2 linked regions of the Homo sapiens genome follow. The protein of the gene in region 1 interacts with the protein of each later gene in a biochemical or structural test. Each region holds a gene or a part of one and is shown in the gene's direction. Other genes may lie near its edges.

The links.
Region 2: the proteins of SLC9A5 (region 1) and CHP1 form a complex in vitro, tested with the Homo sapiens proteins (one study listed by BioGRID).

What each region holds. Positions count from the first base shown.
Region 1 is NC_000016.10:67,244,469-67,252,082, forward strand, and holds the start of SLC9A5 (sodium/hydrogen exchanger 5 isoform 1 precursor), read left to right. Parts: upstream 1-4,510; 5' UTR 4,511-4,546; coding exon 4,547-4,733; intron 4,734-7,614. Other genes in the region: FHOD1 (FH1/FH2 domain-containing protein 1), read right to left, coding at 2,742-2,942. UniProt on the Homo sapiens protein: Plasma membrane Na(+)/H(+) antiporter. Mediates the electroneutral exchange of intracellular H(+) ions for extracellular Na(+) in 1:1 stoichiometry, thus regulating intracellular pH homeostasis, in particular in neural tissues.
Region 2 is NC_000015.10:41,234,268-41,241,267, forward strand, and holds part of CHP1 (calcineurin B homologous protein 1), read left to right. Parts: intron 1-7,000. UniProt on the Homo sapiens protein: Calcium-binding protein involved in different processes such as regulation of vesicular trafficking, plasma membrane Na(+)/H(+) exchanger and gene transcription. Involved in the constitutive exocytic membrane traffic.

The sequences.
Region 1 (7,614 bases):
CACCAACCAGGGCCAGGAGATGAGTCAGAGGCTGTGGCCAGGAGCTTCCTCCTAGTCTAGGAGGAAATGAGCAAGGCTTTCTGAGATCTGAAAGCTCTTTAAAAAGGAAGCCCCCAGGGGAACTCTAGGGGCTAGGCTCGGCCCAATGGGGTGTGTGGGTGGAGTCCCAGGGAGAAAGCAGGCTGGCCTCTGTACATCCCCAGGGAGGGGGGTCATCTGCTGGGATGATCAGGGCCAGTACCCGGGGCCAGTACCCAGAGGAGGACAGAGGCCACTTGGCTGTGTCCTGTCCTCTGCTGGACAACTGTACATAGGACGAAGCAATGAGTAAAGAACCCCTTCCTCTTATTTCTGCCCTACAGCTTGGGACAGGGATGCCCTGGTTTCTGGGCCACCTCTTCCCTCTAGAGGGCCAGCAAGACAGGCCTGAGTCATGTCTGTGACTCTGGGGCACCCACTTATAGGACTACGGGAGGAACCAGCTGTTGACATTTCCTGCAAGGAGGGGCCCTGCTCCCCCTTGCTCAGCTCTCTGATGTCCCTGTCTCTGCCCTATTCTCAGCCCCTCTTCCTCCAGCCTTCTATTCTGGGGCTGTGGTCATAGTTTATATTTGGGTTGAGCACATCACAGTGCATCTGACCATTCCTGGCAGAGTTGCTAGCCCCAGGGAATCCTGGCTTCTGGCATTGTGGTAACCTAGTGTGCCACCTCCATATCCCTGTGGGGGAGGGAAGGCAGTCCTCAGGTACTCCAGGTGGGAGAACATGAAATCGGGGAGACCAGGAAGGACTGCATTGGGGATGAGGAACTTATATTCTTCACCGGAGCTCAGTAGTGTCCTCAGCTAAGGAGCAGGGAACACAGGGCAGAGCACCTGGTAGGGTTGGGTGGGGACACGGGTCCCATGAGAGGGAGATAGAAGGAGTGGTTCTGAGCCTCTTTCTTGCAGCTGACTTCCCAGGCTTGCCCCCAGCTGGGAAGAGGTGTGTCAAGGGGCTGGGCATGGTGGCTCAAGCCTTAATCCCAGCACTTTGGGAGGCTTAGGCAGGCAGATCACCTGAGGTCAGGAGTTTGAGACCAGGCTGGCCAACACGGAGAAACCCTGTCCCTACTAAAAATACAAAAATTACCTGAGTATGGTGGCGCACACCTGTAATCCCAGCTATTTGGAAGGCTGAGGCACGAGAATTGCTAGAACCCGGGAGGTGGAGGTTGCAGTGAGCCAAGATAGCCCCACTGTACTCCAGCCTGGGAGACAGAGCCAGAATCCGTCTTAAAAAAAAAAAAATCGGGGGGGTGGTGTCAGGGCTAGGTCCAATCCTTGAGTTGCAGGATGAGAGGAATACAATATATTCTCTAGTGCCCCACCCTTATTTCAGGATCCGGACTTTAGGAGCCTGGAAGCGGGAACCAGTCTTAGTTCAGCACTCCTGTCTTCCCAGCCCCCATCCTGAATGGGAGGTGGCCTCCAGCTGCACACGCTTCTTCCAGGCACACCTCAATTTGCCCCTCTGAATAGGGCAAGAGAAGCGGGGGCTGAGTCAAAACTGGCGGTGAGCAGTGTCCTGCATCCTTCCAGCCATGGCCTTGAAGCCGGGGTTCTGGCCTGGACACGTGCCACTCTCCAGGCCAATAGTCTCACCACCCCTCCCGCCAGCGCTCAGAGGCGGGGCTGGCCGCAGCGCGAGGAATGCGGGCTGGGGGCCCGGGGCACATTCCAGGGAAGACCCCAGGCCCAAGGGGCAAGTTTACGCAACTCGCCGCCCAGCTGAGGCTGGGAGCAGGGGAGGGCACCCACCCCGACTCTCTCTCCTCTTCTCCAGCACTGGAGGCGGCCGGGCTGGTGGGGAGCTTGTGGAGGTGGTAGTGCGCCTCCCAGAGTCCTGGCCCGGAAACAGCGCGCCGGAAAGGGCTGCCTGCGGGGGGCTGACGGCGGCGAGAGGGAGGGGAGAGGAGGTAGGCTGGCCATCTGGAAAAGGGCCTCTTTCCGCACTGTGCACAAGTCCGCTTCGGGGCGGCAGCAAAGTAGGGCAGGCCGGCTGTTTAAAATTAGTCCGGCCCTCCCTCTCACTTTCAGGCGCGGGCCGATGGGCGGCGAGTGTCCGGGGGTGGGGGCGGGAGCGGTGACTCAAAGGGCTTTTACACCCGTGCAGCCTCCTGCGCTCTGCGGATCCCGGGCCAGACCGCTTCGCGGGGACTCCCCTCACCCCGTGAAGTCTCTCCTCGGCCGGCACTCCCATACTCCCATTGACCTACAGGGTCAAGCCCCAATCCAGCTTCCTGACACCGCAGGAAACCTCTGCCACCTCTAGTAGTCCGCCTCGGGCCCGCCCCTCCTCGTGGTCCCGCCCCCACCTCACCTGAAGCAGGTGGAAGCTGGTCCCTCCCCAGCTCCGCCTCCAGGGTCCGCTACAGCCCAAGCGGCTACCGTCACTCTGACCAGGGAAGCCACCCTGGCAGACCGACGGCGAGTGGAACTCGAGCACCTCCCCAGGTGCGCCTAATTCGAAGGGCAGTCAGAATGGCGGAGCCAAGTTCCTGGCACCCCTCTTCAGTTTCCCCTCAACTTGAGAGGGGACTCCCCCGCAGGCGGGGCAGAGTGGACCCTGGGACCCCAGCCCAAGACTTTTCCGGAGAAGAACACTCGCTCCAGCCTCTTCCCGCGGAGCACCTCCCACCAGTTTTCATGGCGCCCACCCTGAACCCCCGATCGCCCCAACCTTTCTCCGGCCTCCCTCACCTTGAGCGGCGCTCCCAGCAGGCGGTGCACCGCGGGTATCTGCGCGCCCAAGGGCAGCGCCCCGTCCAGGCTGCAGGTGGGGGCCCGGCGCGGCTCCGGAAAGTTGGCACATGCGAAGGGGTCGGTGTCTTCCAGGTACTGCACCCTCACGGTCACCACTGATACCGGCTCTCCGTCCCCGCGGTCTTCCCCGCCCGCCATGGCTCTGCGGCCGGCTCACGCAGCGCGCCTCCGAGTCCCGGCCCCAGTGCAGCTTCTACTCAAAGCACACTGTAGCTCCGCGGTTCGGGCCCGGCCGGACCGGACGCGGCTGGAGGGGCGGGGCCAGACGGAGGCGGGGCCGAGGAAGGGGGTGGAGCCAAGATTAGTCCCCGAGTGCGCGCCAGGAGGTAACCACTGCCGGAGGCGGGGCCGCCGCTAGCCACTCACAGGGCCCAATGGGAATCCCGTTAGTTCACTGGCTAGGAGGGCGGGAAAAACCGAGCTCGCGCCCCACCTTCGAGAACGCGCAGAAGGCGGGGAGGCTTTCTTTGGTCTGGGGATAGTGAGGCTGCGTTCTCTTTGAGGGGTGTTAGGGCAGATGGGGCAGAAGTTTCTTTAGATAGTGGCCGGCCAGGTCTCTCTCAGTTGAGGGACAAGATAGCCCTCATTCCTTCCATTTGAGGGGTGAGTCCCTGTGGTTTCCTCATTTAGGGAAAGCAGTGAGAGGGGGTCCCTTCAATTTGGAGCAAGAAGTGAGAATAAATTCCACCCAGTTTGAAGGAAGAGGTGGGATCAGTTCCCTTTAGTTGTGGGAGGAAGAGGGAAGGATGCCCTTCAGTTTTCTGGGAAAAGATTGGGAGGAGTCAGTTTGAGGGGGCAGATAGAACACGTTCCCCTCAGTTTTGGAGAAAAAGTGGGATGGGTGCCCCTCAGCCTGAATGAAAAGTGGAGACGGTCCTCCTCTGTTTGGGGCGCTATGAGCCGAATGCCCCTCAGATTTGGAAAAAGTTGGGTGCATCTCGCCTAGTTTGAAGGGAATCAGTAGGCTGGGTTTTCCATAGGTTCCTGTCAGCTTCATCAAAGAGATGAGACAGTTCTCTGTAGTGTGACTGAAAGGGAGGGCCAGGTGCCCCTTGGTTTGGGAGATGAAGAACAGCCTCCCTCTTCGCCTGGCACGAGCTGGGCCAGTCTGGGCCTTAGGGTTTCTGGGACGTTGGGGGCAGCGTTGTCCGTCACTGCTTTGGGGAGCGTCCAGTGCGCGTGCGCAGCTCAGGTCCGGGTGGGGGCCGGCAGGGGGTCCTGGGCTTGGCAACGTGGGCGGAGGGCGGCCAAGCACGGTCCCCTGCGTTTTGCACCCGGCCGCGCCTTGGTCCCAGGGGGGTGCTGCTCGCCGCACAGCAGCGCTGGCCGAGGAGGAGCCGTGCCCCTCCCGTCCTGACCGCGCCCCCCGCAGACCCCCGCCCTTCCCGCTGCGGGCTGCCCCAGGGGGGCCGTGGCCGCGCACCGCTCTGGATCTGGTGGGGGCGGTTTTGGGGAGGTTTGGGGGCGCGGACTCGAAGGAGTAGGTTGTGGAACTTGGGGGAGAGCTGCACTGGGGAATTTCCGGAGCTGGGACTGATTTAGGGAGGAAAGAGGAGAGAGTCCCCGACTACGAGAGTCCGAGGCAGGGTCTCGGAGCCTGGACCTGGCTTGGGGGTATCGGAGCCGGGATTGGGGGGAGCGGGCCCCACGTGCCTGTGACGCGGGGGCGCCCGGTAGGTGGCGGCGGCGACGCGGGGCCGGCGGCCGTGCGGTGCCGGGAGGGCGGCTGGGCAGGCGGCAGGATGCTGCGCGCCGCCCTGTCCCTGCTCGCGCTGCCCCTGGCGGGGGCGGCCGAAGAGCCCACCCAGAAGCCAGAGTCCCCGGGCGAGCCTCCCCCAGGCTTAGAGCTCTTCCGCTGGCAGTGGCACGAGGTGGAGGCGCCCTACCTGGTGGCCCTGTGGATCCTGGTGGCCAGTCTGGCCAAAATCGGTGAGTGCGTGTGTGCGTGCGCCAGGCCGACCGCCAGCGGCGGACCCGCCCCCAACACCCCCACCTCCTCGGTCCTCAGATTGGGGCTGGCTTCTTGCACGGTGCTGGGACTTAGGTTTGGATTCCACAAATCCGGGCTCTCGCCCAGTTCCTGCATCGCTTCTTGTGGGTCCCAGGTCCCTGTCTTCTCCCCTGGGAGCTCTGAGGATTTGCCTTTCTGAAGGGCTGTCCCCCGCTCTCCCCAACTCCATCTGTAGGCTCCTTTGCCCTCTCCGCTCCCCTCTTCCCCTTGCAGTAGGCCCTCTTCAGTCTGGTCTCTCCCCCACCAATCCCTAGCCTCCCAGAAACCTCTGTCGCTGGTGAGGATGTGTGGGGACATTGAGGGGAGGGTGTTCTCCCAAGAACACAGGCATCCTGGTTCTGAAAAAGCAGCCTTCCCTGGAGACCATGTCCGAGTGTCCATTCCCTTGGGAAACTACACTGCCACTTTTCCTCCAGCTCTCCCCTGCTCCCCACTTAAAGCTGCTGCCTTCTTGTGCCTGTGTATGGGTACCCCCCCAACCCACGTTCAGGTCCACATTCTTCTCACTTCAGGGTATAAGAAACTTCCGTGTATCGGGGCCTTCCTGTGTGCTGTCTACCCTAGATGCTTTCATACATCCGACCTCTTCAGTCCTGACAGCATTGAAGGCTGTGCTTCAGACTTCTTTTTCCCTGAATAGAGCTGCTTTTCCTTGCATCTGCTCCTTCCTCCTCCCTTCTGAGCAGCCAGTGGTCCCTCCTCCCACCAGAGACCCTCCTCCTTCTCCCTGTTGTGCTGGCTCTGCTGTGGGGGTGACTAATTATAGCTGAGCGTTGCTACTCTCTCCCCATGGATGCTGGCACAGCCTGTACTCCAGTCTCACCAATACAGCCTTCATGGAGGAATCACCCAGAGCCTAGAATTTGCCCCTCTTCTCCCACATGGACACTGCTAGGGGGTGAGGGGGCTGGGCAGGAACAGAACTCTCCACTCTGCTGTGGCAGCCTGAGATTAATAATGGAAAGTGGAACTCAATATGCCTTCCGGGAGCGTGGTTCTGTGATGGGGCTTGGATCTCGGGGCTGGGGTTAATGCATGAAGAGATGAAGATGAAATAGGGTCCCCGAAGGAGAGAAGTGGGAGACCAAAGTAGGGACAAGTATGGAGAGATCTATGACCATGTTTACCTTAGAGGTCCAGCAGCAATGAGAGTAAGAGTAGAAAGAGCCTCAGGTTTGGAGCCAACGATTGGGTTTGCTAAGTCTGTGAGTTGCAGAAGAGTTCCTGTCTTAGGGTTTATAGCAAAAACTGTAGTTTTCCCCATAAATCATGGTTCTTTTTCTAGTTTGGATGACATTTCCTATGGAAGTAAGAGAAGAGAGCCTCCTTTTCACAAGTCAAAGAAAATCCTCGAACAAGAGAAAAGGCAGAGCATTCAGGAACACCTTCCCCCAGCTTCATTGCTAGGAGACTTTTTCCCTTTTATTAAACAAATATTTACATAGAGCTCACTATGTGCCAGGCACTGTTCTAGGCCCTTTGGGTACAGCTTCCAAAGGGCACTGTCTTGGCATAGGGTCTCACAGAGGCTAATTTAGAGGTCTCCTTCCCCAACACCCCAGGGATTATGTAGAGAGAGATGTGTTCGCTTGTGGTCTGAGGACTTAAAGGAGAGCCAAAGAGTTTATTTTAGAGGACAAAAGTAGGAGTGGCTATAGTGCTAGAAACGCTTTTCTTCTCCCCTCCTACAGACAGAACTGTTCTATTTAATTAACATTTGGTGTGTGTCTAACATACTATGTGTCTGACATTATGCTAGGCACATTTGCATACTTTATATCATTTTATCCTCACCCTTGATGCTGGGTATTTTTCCTATATTACAAAAGAAGAAATTGAAGTTCAAGTAAGTTAAATAATTTGCCTGAGATCACATAGAATGTGCTAAGGCTGGAAGAAGACCTGGAGATCTTCTGATTGCTAAAGCCAAAGTTTTAAAAACTACGCAGTCCTGAGTGAGCCCATATAATGAAAAGCACATTGGGCTAGGAAGTCTACACAGCTCCTAGGAGGTATAATATACATTCTGGTCTAGTTAAGGAGTGAGGACATTATAATAGGTAACATTTATTGAGTGCTTACTGTAAAGTAGTGTGCTAAGTGCTTTTGAGTAGATTGTCTTTTTTTTTTTTTTTTTTTTTTTTTTTTGAGACAGAGTCTCACTCTGTCACCCAGGCTGGAGTACAGTGGCATGATCTCGGCTCACTGCAACCTCTGCCTCCCAGGTTCAAGTGATTCTCCTGCCTCAGTCTCCCAAGTAGCTGGGACTACCGGCACCCGCCACCATGCCCAGCTAATTTTTGTATTTTTAGTAGAGACAGGGTTTCGCCGTGCTGGCCAGGCTGATCCAGAACTCCTGACCTCAGGTGATCTGCCCACTTTGGCCTCCCAAAGTGCTGGGATTACAGGCATGAGCCACCGCGCCCCGCCTGTAGATTGTCTTTTTTAATGGTCACAATAATCTTATGAGATCATTATCGTTTTTACTCCCATTTCACTGATGAGAAAACTGAGTCAGAGACATGAAGTTATTTGCCCTAAGATCACAGAACTAAGCTTTGAATCCAAGCAACTTGACTCCAAAGACCCTGATTTTTACAGCTTTCTTACATATAAAAAGATACTGGGTAGCATTAGCTGAGGTTCAAATAATGGCTATGGATAAGGGTTGTCAGAGAAAGGTGAGGTCCCCTGAGGATGAAAGTATAAAGGAAGGGACATTTCTAGAAGGGGAAAAAGCAGTAAAGGCCTAGGTTACCATAGTGTGACAGGAGCACTAAGAAACAGATGACTTTGACT
Region 2 (7,000 bases), on another chromosome or scaffold:
TTTCAAGGAGTAATTTGGTATGATGCAAAAGATTTTGAAGAATAAAAACGGATATCTGGAGTGGGTAGAGAGGTGGAATTTGTCCCATTTTCATCTGCCTTTTCTTCTATGAAGAATTTGGAAAACTATCTATCAGAAGCACTTTAAGAACAATTATAAGACATTTTACTACTTCCTTTGCCAGTACAAAATGTAACATAATTGAGGAATACTAAATTTATATTCAGTGCAAAAGCTGTGCATTGGAATTTGATGATTATATTTAACCATATTTTTTGCAAATTTAAAAAGATTAGAATTTCTACATGACTAGATTAGCTGGTATTTGATATTTAATGAATAACAGTAAGTGTTTGGAAAAGTAATTCTGGATAAGAATTACCTGTGATCCTCAGTTTCATCATCTGTAAAATTAGAATAATAATAGTGCCTACTTTATAGGATTCTTACGACAATTACATGAGATGAATTATGCAAACTACTTAGAATAGTGTCTGGTATAATAAACTTCATGTGAGTGTTATTATTTTGAACCATAGTTAACAATCGTCTTATTGGGAAAATACCATTTGCATGTACTAGTTATAAAAACTATGTGTAGGGCTATATCATTGGGGAGGTGACAGCATTTTATACTTCTTTTTGTAGTGGACAGTTGATTAGGAATTAAGTACAGATGTTTTGCCAATTATAAGGAAATAAAATTTTTAAAGGAGTTTTTAACAGTTTATGAAACTGTTATGATGTTTTAACAGGAATTGTCTAAGAAATGCTTTCTATTGGCATATTTGCTAAATTATCTTTGTTCTACTACCTTCTTTCAGACTTCTGCATTTTCATAAAGCTTATTTGAAAAAAAGGTGTAATCGGGGATAAAGCCACAAATGTCTTAGGAGTTTCTGTAATCATCACCCTTAATTCACTTAATTGTAGCAATAAGCTGGCTGTGAATTACTTAAAACTTTATGAGGCCAGGCGCAGTGGCTCACACCTGTAGTTCCAGCACTTTGGGAGGCCAAGGTGGCAGATCGCTTGAGCCCAGGAGTTCAAGACCAGCCTGGGCAACATAGGGAAACCCCATCTCTACAAAAAAATAAATTTAAAAAAAATTAGCTGGACATGGTGAAGCGTGCCTGCAGTCCCAGCTACTCAGGAGGCTGAGGTGGGAGGATTGCTTAGGCGGGAGGTCAAGGCTGCAGTGAGCCATGTTCGTGCCACTGCACTCTGGCCTGGGAGAAACAGACCCTGTCTCAAAAAAAAACAAAAACAAACAACAACCACAAAAACACCTTGATAAACAATTCATGCCATTCAAGTAGTAATGAATGCAGATTATTTTTAGTCTCTACCTTTTGGTATATGTCATGTGGTACGGGAAGGGTGTTGAACAGGTTTAGGAAGTAAGTTGCACAGGTTGGTAAGGTTTTGTTTGTTTGAAAGAGTGTAGTAATGATAGAGTTCTAACAGAGTACAAGCCTGGCAAAGGCAATTGCTTGAGAACAATATCATGGCTAGAATGTAAGTAGAAATTCAACTTCAGGTTTCTCGTGCCTCCAAATGTAGGACCCTTCACAGCCCTCACCAGCCTGAAGGTTCTGTCACTTCAGAAAACCAGGCTGTCTTCTGCCTCCTATTGAAATGGAAATGCATGGATAACTAACACCTTTAACTGGTTTTGGGTTAAGTGATTTGTAAAGCTCTGTACTTTTTGAGTTCTAGTGCAAAGTTTTATTCTCATTTGTTGCCATAAAGGAGTAAGAAGCAACTATTTGTCAATTAGAGAGGGCATTGTGGGAAAGAGACCCTAAGAACTTTTTTTTTTTTTTTTTGAGACAGGGTCTCACTCTGTTGCCCAGGCTGGAGTGCAGTGGTGCAATCATAGCTCATTGCAGCCTCAAACTCCTGGCCTCAAATGATCCTTCCACCCCAGACTTTCAAAGTACTGGGATTATAGATGTGAGCCACTGTGCCTGGCAACTACCTGATTTTTAATTTTTATTTATTTATTTTTTCAGACAGGGTCTTGCTCTGTCATCCAGGCTGGAGTGCAATGGCATGATCACGGCTCACTGCAGCCTCAAGCTTCTGGGCTCAAGCAATCCTCCCAGCTCAGCCTCCTGAGTAGCTGGGACTACAGGCACATGCCACCACGCCTGGCTAATTTTTTAATTTTTTGTAGAGATAGGGTTTCACCATGTTGCCCAGGCTGGTCTTGAACTCCTGAGTTCAGGTGGTCCGCTCATCCCAGTCCCCCAAAGTGCTGCGATTACAGAGGTGAGCCACTGGCCAGGAACTTTTTTGCGGGGGCAAGGAGGGGATGGTGGTCCAGACCAGAGAGTAGTTGGAGGTTTATTCATTCAGAAGATAATTGACCCCAGCAGCAGCTGCGAAGATATAAGCTTTATTTTTGTAAATTTCTGGATAAACCATTTGAAAGTTGCAGGTATTGGAACTCTTTACCCCTTCATACTTCTGCATGTATCCCTTAAGTATTGGGATGGTTTTTACGTAACAACAATACTATTATCACACCTAAGAAAGTTGATAATACTTCTTAATACTATCTTTTTTTTTTTTTTGAGACAGAGTCTTGCTCTTGTTGCCCAGGCTGGAGTGCAGTGACTCGATCTCAGCTCACTGCAACCTCTGCCTCCTGGGTTCAAGCCATTCTCTTGCCTCAGCTTCCCAAGTAGCTGGGATTACAGGTGCCTGCCACCAGGCCTGGCTAATTTTTTGTATTTTTAGTAGAGATGGGGTTTCGCCACGTTGGCCAGGCTGGTCTCGAACTCCTGACCTCAGGTGATCCACCCACTTCAGCCTCCCAAAGTGCTGGGATTACAGGCGTGAGCCACCGCACCTGGCCCCTTTTTTTCTTTTTCTTTTTTTTTTTTTAATTGAGATGGAGTTTCACTTTTGTCGCCCAGGCTGGAGTGCAGTGGCGCGATCTCAGCTCACTGCAACCTCCGCCTCCTGGCTTCAAATGATTCTCCTGCCTCAGCCTCCCAAGTAGCTGGGATTACAGGCATGTGCCACCACGCCTGGCTAATTGTTTTTATTTTTAGTAGATACGAGGTTTTACCATGTTGGCCAGGCTGGTCTCGAACTCCTAACCTCAGATGATCTGCCTGCCTCAGCCTCCCAAAGGGCTAGGATTATAGACGTGAGCCACCTTAATATTATCTATCATTCACTTCCTATTCAAATTTCTCCAATTATAAGAAGATAGATTTTGTTTGTTTTATATAATGTTTTAAAATCTCTCTTAATCCCTAAGAGACTAGTCCAGGGCTTGAAGTCTTCATGTCAGGGGGAATGTTAAGGTGTAGTCTATTCCGGGAAGCGCAGGCTTCAACTTTCCTTTATCTAGAGCTACCTTTAGCTGTACTTGTAATCTTTACATAGGTTATCAGTCTGTTCTTCTGCATTAAGATTTGGAATAAAGGCAAGGACAAAATAACTTTTTCTTTTCTTTTTTTTTGAGATGGAGTCTCGTTCTGTCACCAGGCTGGAGTGCAGTGGTGCAATCCCGCCTCCCGGGTTCAAGGGATTCTCCCGCCTCAGCCTCCTGAGTAGCTGGGACTATAGGCACGTGCCACCATGCCCGGCTAATTTTTGTATTTTTAGTAGAGATGGGGTTTCCCCATGTTGGCCAGGATGATCTTGATCTCTTGACCTCGTAATCCACCCACCTCCCAAAAGTGCTAGGATTACAGGCATGAGCCACCATGCCTGGCCCTCCAAAATAACTTTTTCTTACTCCCTTTTTGTTTTTATTCTTTCCTCTGCCACTTCTGCTTCGCACTTCTGTGAAATGCCTTCCTCCTCTTTGCACAATGCAGTGATGATAGAAAGATTTCAGCAACGTTAACAGGGTCTTTTTTTGTTTTTTTGGCGTGTGTTTTTTTTTTGAGACAGGGTCTCACTCTGTCACCCAGGTTGGAGTGGAGGGGTGTGATCATAGCTCACTACAACCTTGAACTCCTGGGCTGAAACAGTCCTTCTGCCTCTGCCTCCTAAATAGCTCAGCGTACAGGAATGCACCACGATGCCCAGCTAATGATTGATTGATTGATTATAGAGATGAAGTCTTGCTTTGTTGCCCAGGCTAGTTTTGAACTGGCCTTTCGTCAAGGGATCCTCCCACTTTAGCCTCCCAAAGTGCTAGGATTACAGGCATGAGCCACTGCCCTCAGCCAAACAGGGTCTTTTAAATAATCTTTTAACAATTTAAAATGATTATATACCCATACCAGTGGAGAAAAAATACAGCTTCATTCAAGACATGTTTATAGCAGGGCACGGTGGCTCATGCCTGTAATCCCAGCACTTTAGGGCGGCTGAGGCGGGTGGATCACGAGGTCGGGAGATCGAGATCATCCTGGCTAACACGGTGAAACCTGGTCTCTACTAAAAATACAAAAAAAAAAAAAAATTAGCCAGGCATGGTGGTGGCAGGTACCTGTAGTCGCAGCTACTCAGGAGGCTGAGGCAGGAGAATGGCCTGAACCTGGGAGGCAGAGTTTGCAGTGAGCCAAGATCGCGCCACTGCACTCCATCCTGGGTGACAAAGCAAGCCTCCATCTCAAAAAAAGAAAAAAGACACGTTTATATGCACGGCCTTCTCTGAGAGTAACTGTCAACTCCTGTTATTTCCTTTGGGTTACCAAGAATTGTGCAGGTTTTGGGCACCTATCTGACTAGCTTAGAGCCTTCTGGGGAAAATACTTCACTGGAAACATGATCTGCCTTCATTCACACCAGTTCCAGTACCTTTCTACACATGGATGGTGTAGCTCCTTTATAGGTAGATTGGGATTGTTCTGAGATTGCTTTATATTCTTTGTCACAGTGAATTTAGTACCTAAATTAAAGCCTTCTCTCCTTCTTTTTGTTAACAAAATTACTTGTAACCATATCGTTATGGTTCTAAAATTTGTTCTAAAATTTTGGAGATAAGTTTAGATATGACCATATTGATTAGTATTAAAAGTTGACATTTGGTTGTATGTTTCTCCACTGACTCCCATATAACCCAGTTCGTCCTGGAAGATAGTTTTTTTTTTTTTAATGTTTTGGCTACTTATTTACATTATTTATTTTTAACATATTAGTACATTATTTTTTGTTATCGTTTGTTTTGTTTTGTTTTGTTTTGAGGCGGAGTCTCACTCTGTCGCCCAGGCTGGAGTGCAGTGGTGAGATTTCAGCTCACTGCAACCTCCATCTCCCAGGATCAAGCGATTCTCCTGCCTCAGCCTCCCAAGTAGCTGGGATTATACCACCACACCTGGCTAATTTTTGTATTTTTAGTAGAGACAGGGTTTTACCATGTTGGCCAGGCTGGTCTTGAACTCTTGGCCACAGGTGATCTGCCCGCCCTCAGCCCCCCAAAGTGCTGGTATTGCAGGCTTGAGCCACCAGGCCTTGCCACATTTTGAATTTAAGCAGCCATAAACTGGTCTTAACATACTATAGGAGGTTTCAGTGCCCAGTTATTTTATTTCTTTTTTATTTATTTATTTTTTCGAGACAGAGTCTCCTCTCTGTCACCCAGGCTGGAGTGCAGTGGCGCAATCTCAGCTCACTGCAAGCTCCGCCTCCCAGGTTCAAACCATTCTCCTGCCTCAGCCTCCCGAGTAGCTGGGACTACAGGTGCCTGCCACCACGCCCGTCTAATTTTTTGTATTTGTAGTAGAGACAGGGTTTCACCGTGTTAGCCAGGATGGTCTCAATCTCCTGACCTCGTGATCCGCCCGCCTCGGCCTCCCAAAGTGCTGGGATTACAGCTGGGATTACAGGTGTGAGCCACCACGCCCAGCCTCAGTGCCCAGTTATTTTAGATGATATAGATTAGAAAGATGTTTAATGGCTCATTTGTGGATTTTTTTGGTTTAAAATAATTTTATTTTTTATTTTTATTTTTATTTTGTTCCCCAGCCTGGTCTTGAACTCCTGGCCTCAAATCATTGTCCTGCTTCTGCCTCTGGAAGTGCTGGGATTATAGGCGCCAGCCATCATGCCTGGCTCTCATTTGTTCATTGAAGGGGTCGGATTAGATAACATTTCTACCAATTTTAAAATTATATAAATTGGATAAAGAAGGACTCCAAAGCAATATAGAAAAAGTATGAATTACTAAATGAAAAGCAAGCTATTACAACTTTGTAAAGTACACGAGTAACTGATATTAGATGATATATGAAGAGCTGGGCGCGGTGGCTCATGCCTGTAATCCCAGCACTTTGGGAGGCCGAGGTGAGTGGATCACCCGAGGTTGGGAGTTTAAGACCAGCCTGACCAACATGGAGAAACCCTGTCTCTACTAAAAATACAAAATTAGCTGGGTGTGGTGGCGCATGCCTATAATTCCAGCTACTTGGGAGGCTGAGGCTGGAGAATCACGGGAACCCAGAAGGCGGAGGTTGTGGTGAGCCAAGATTGTGCCATTGCGCTCCAGCCTGGGCAAGAAGAGCGAAACTCTATCTCAAAAAAAAAAAAAAAAAAAAGATCTATGAAGAAATGAAAATGGCAGTGTTGGGATTGTGAACAAATTTTGTTTTTTTCAAAAAATCTTTTGGGAAACTTAGTAATTCTTTTTTTTTTTGAAACAGAGTCTTGTTCTGTCACCAGTCTGGAGTGCAGTGACGTGATCTCCGCTCACTGCAACCTTCGCCTCCCTGGTTCAAGTGATTCTCCTGCCTCAGCTTCCCAAGTAGCTGGGACTAGAGGCAGACGCCACCACACCCAGCAGATTTTTGTATTTTTAGTAGAGACGAGGTTTCGCCATGTTGGCCAGGATGGTCTCGATCTCTTTTCCTCAGCATCCGCCCGCCTTGGCCTCCCAAAGTGCTGAGATTACAGGCGTGAGCCACTGCGCCCAGCCTGAAATTTAGTAATTCTTTAACTGACTTATTTTTGTTAAACTAAAGGGAACTTTAGTACAAGAATAGCCTTTGAGGCCTGAGGCCAGAACTGGGATAGACTGGTCAAGTTCTTAAAG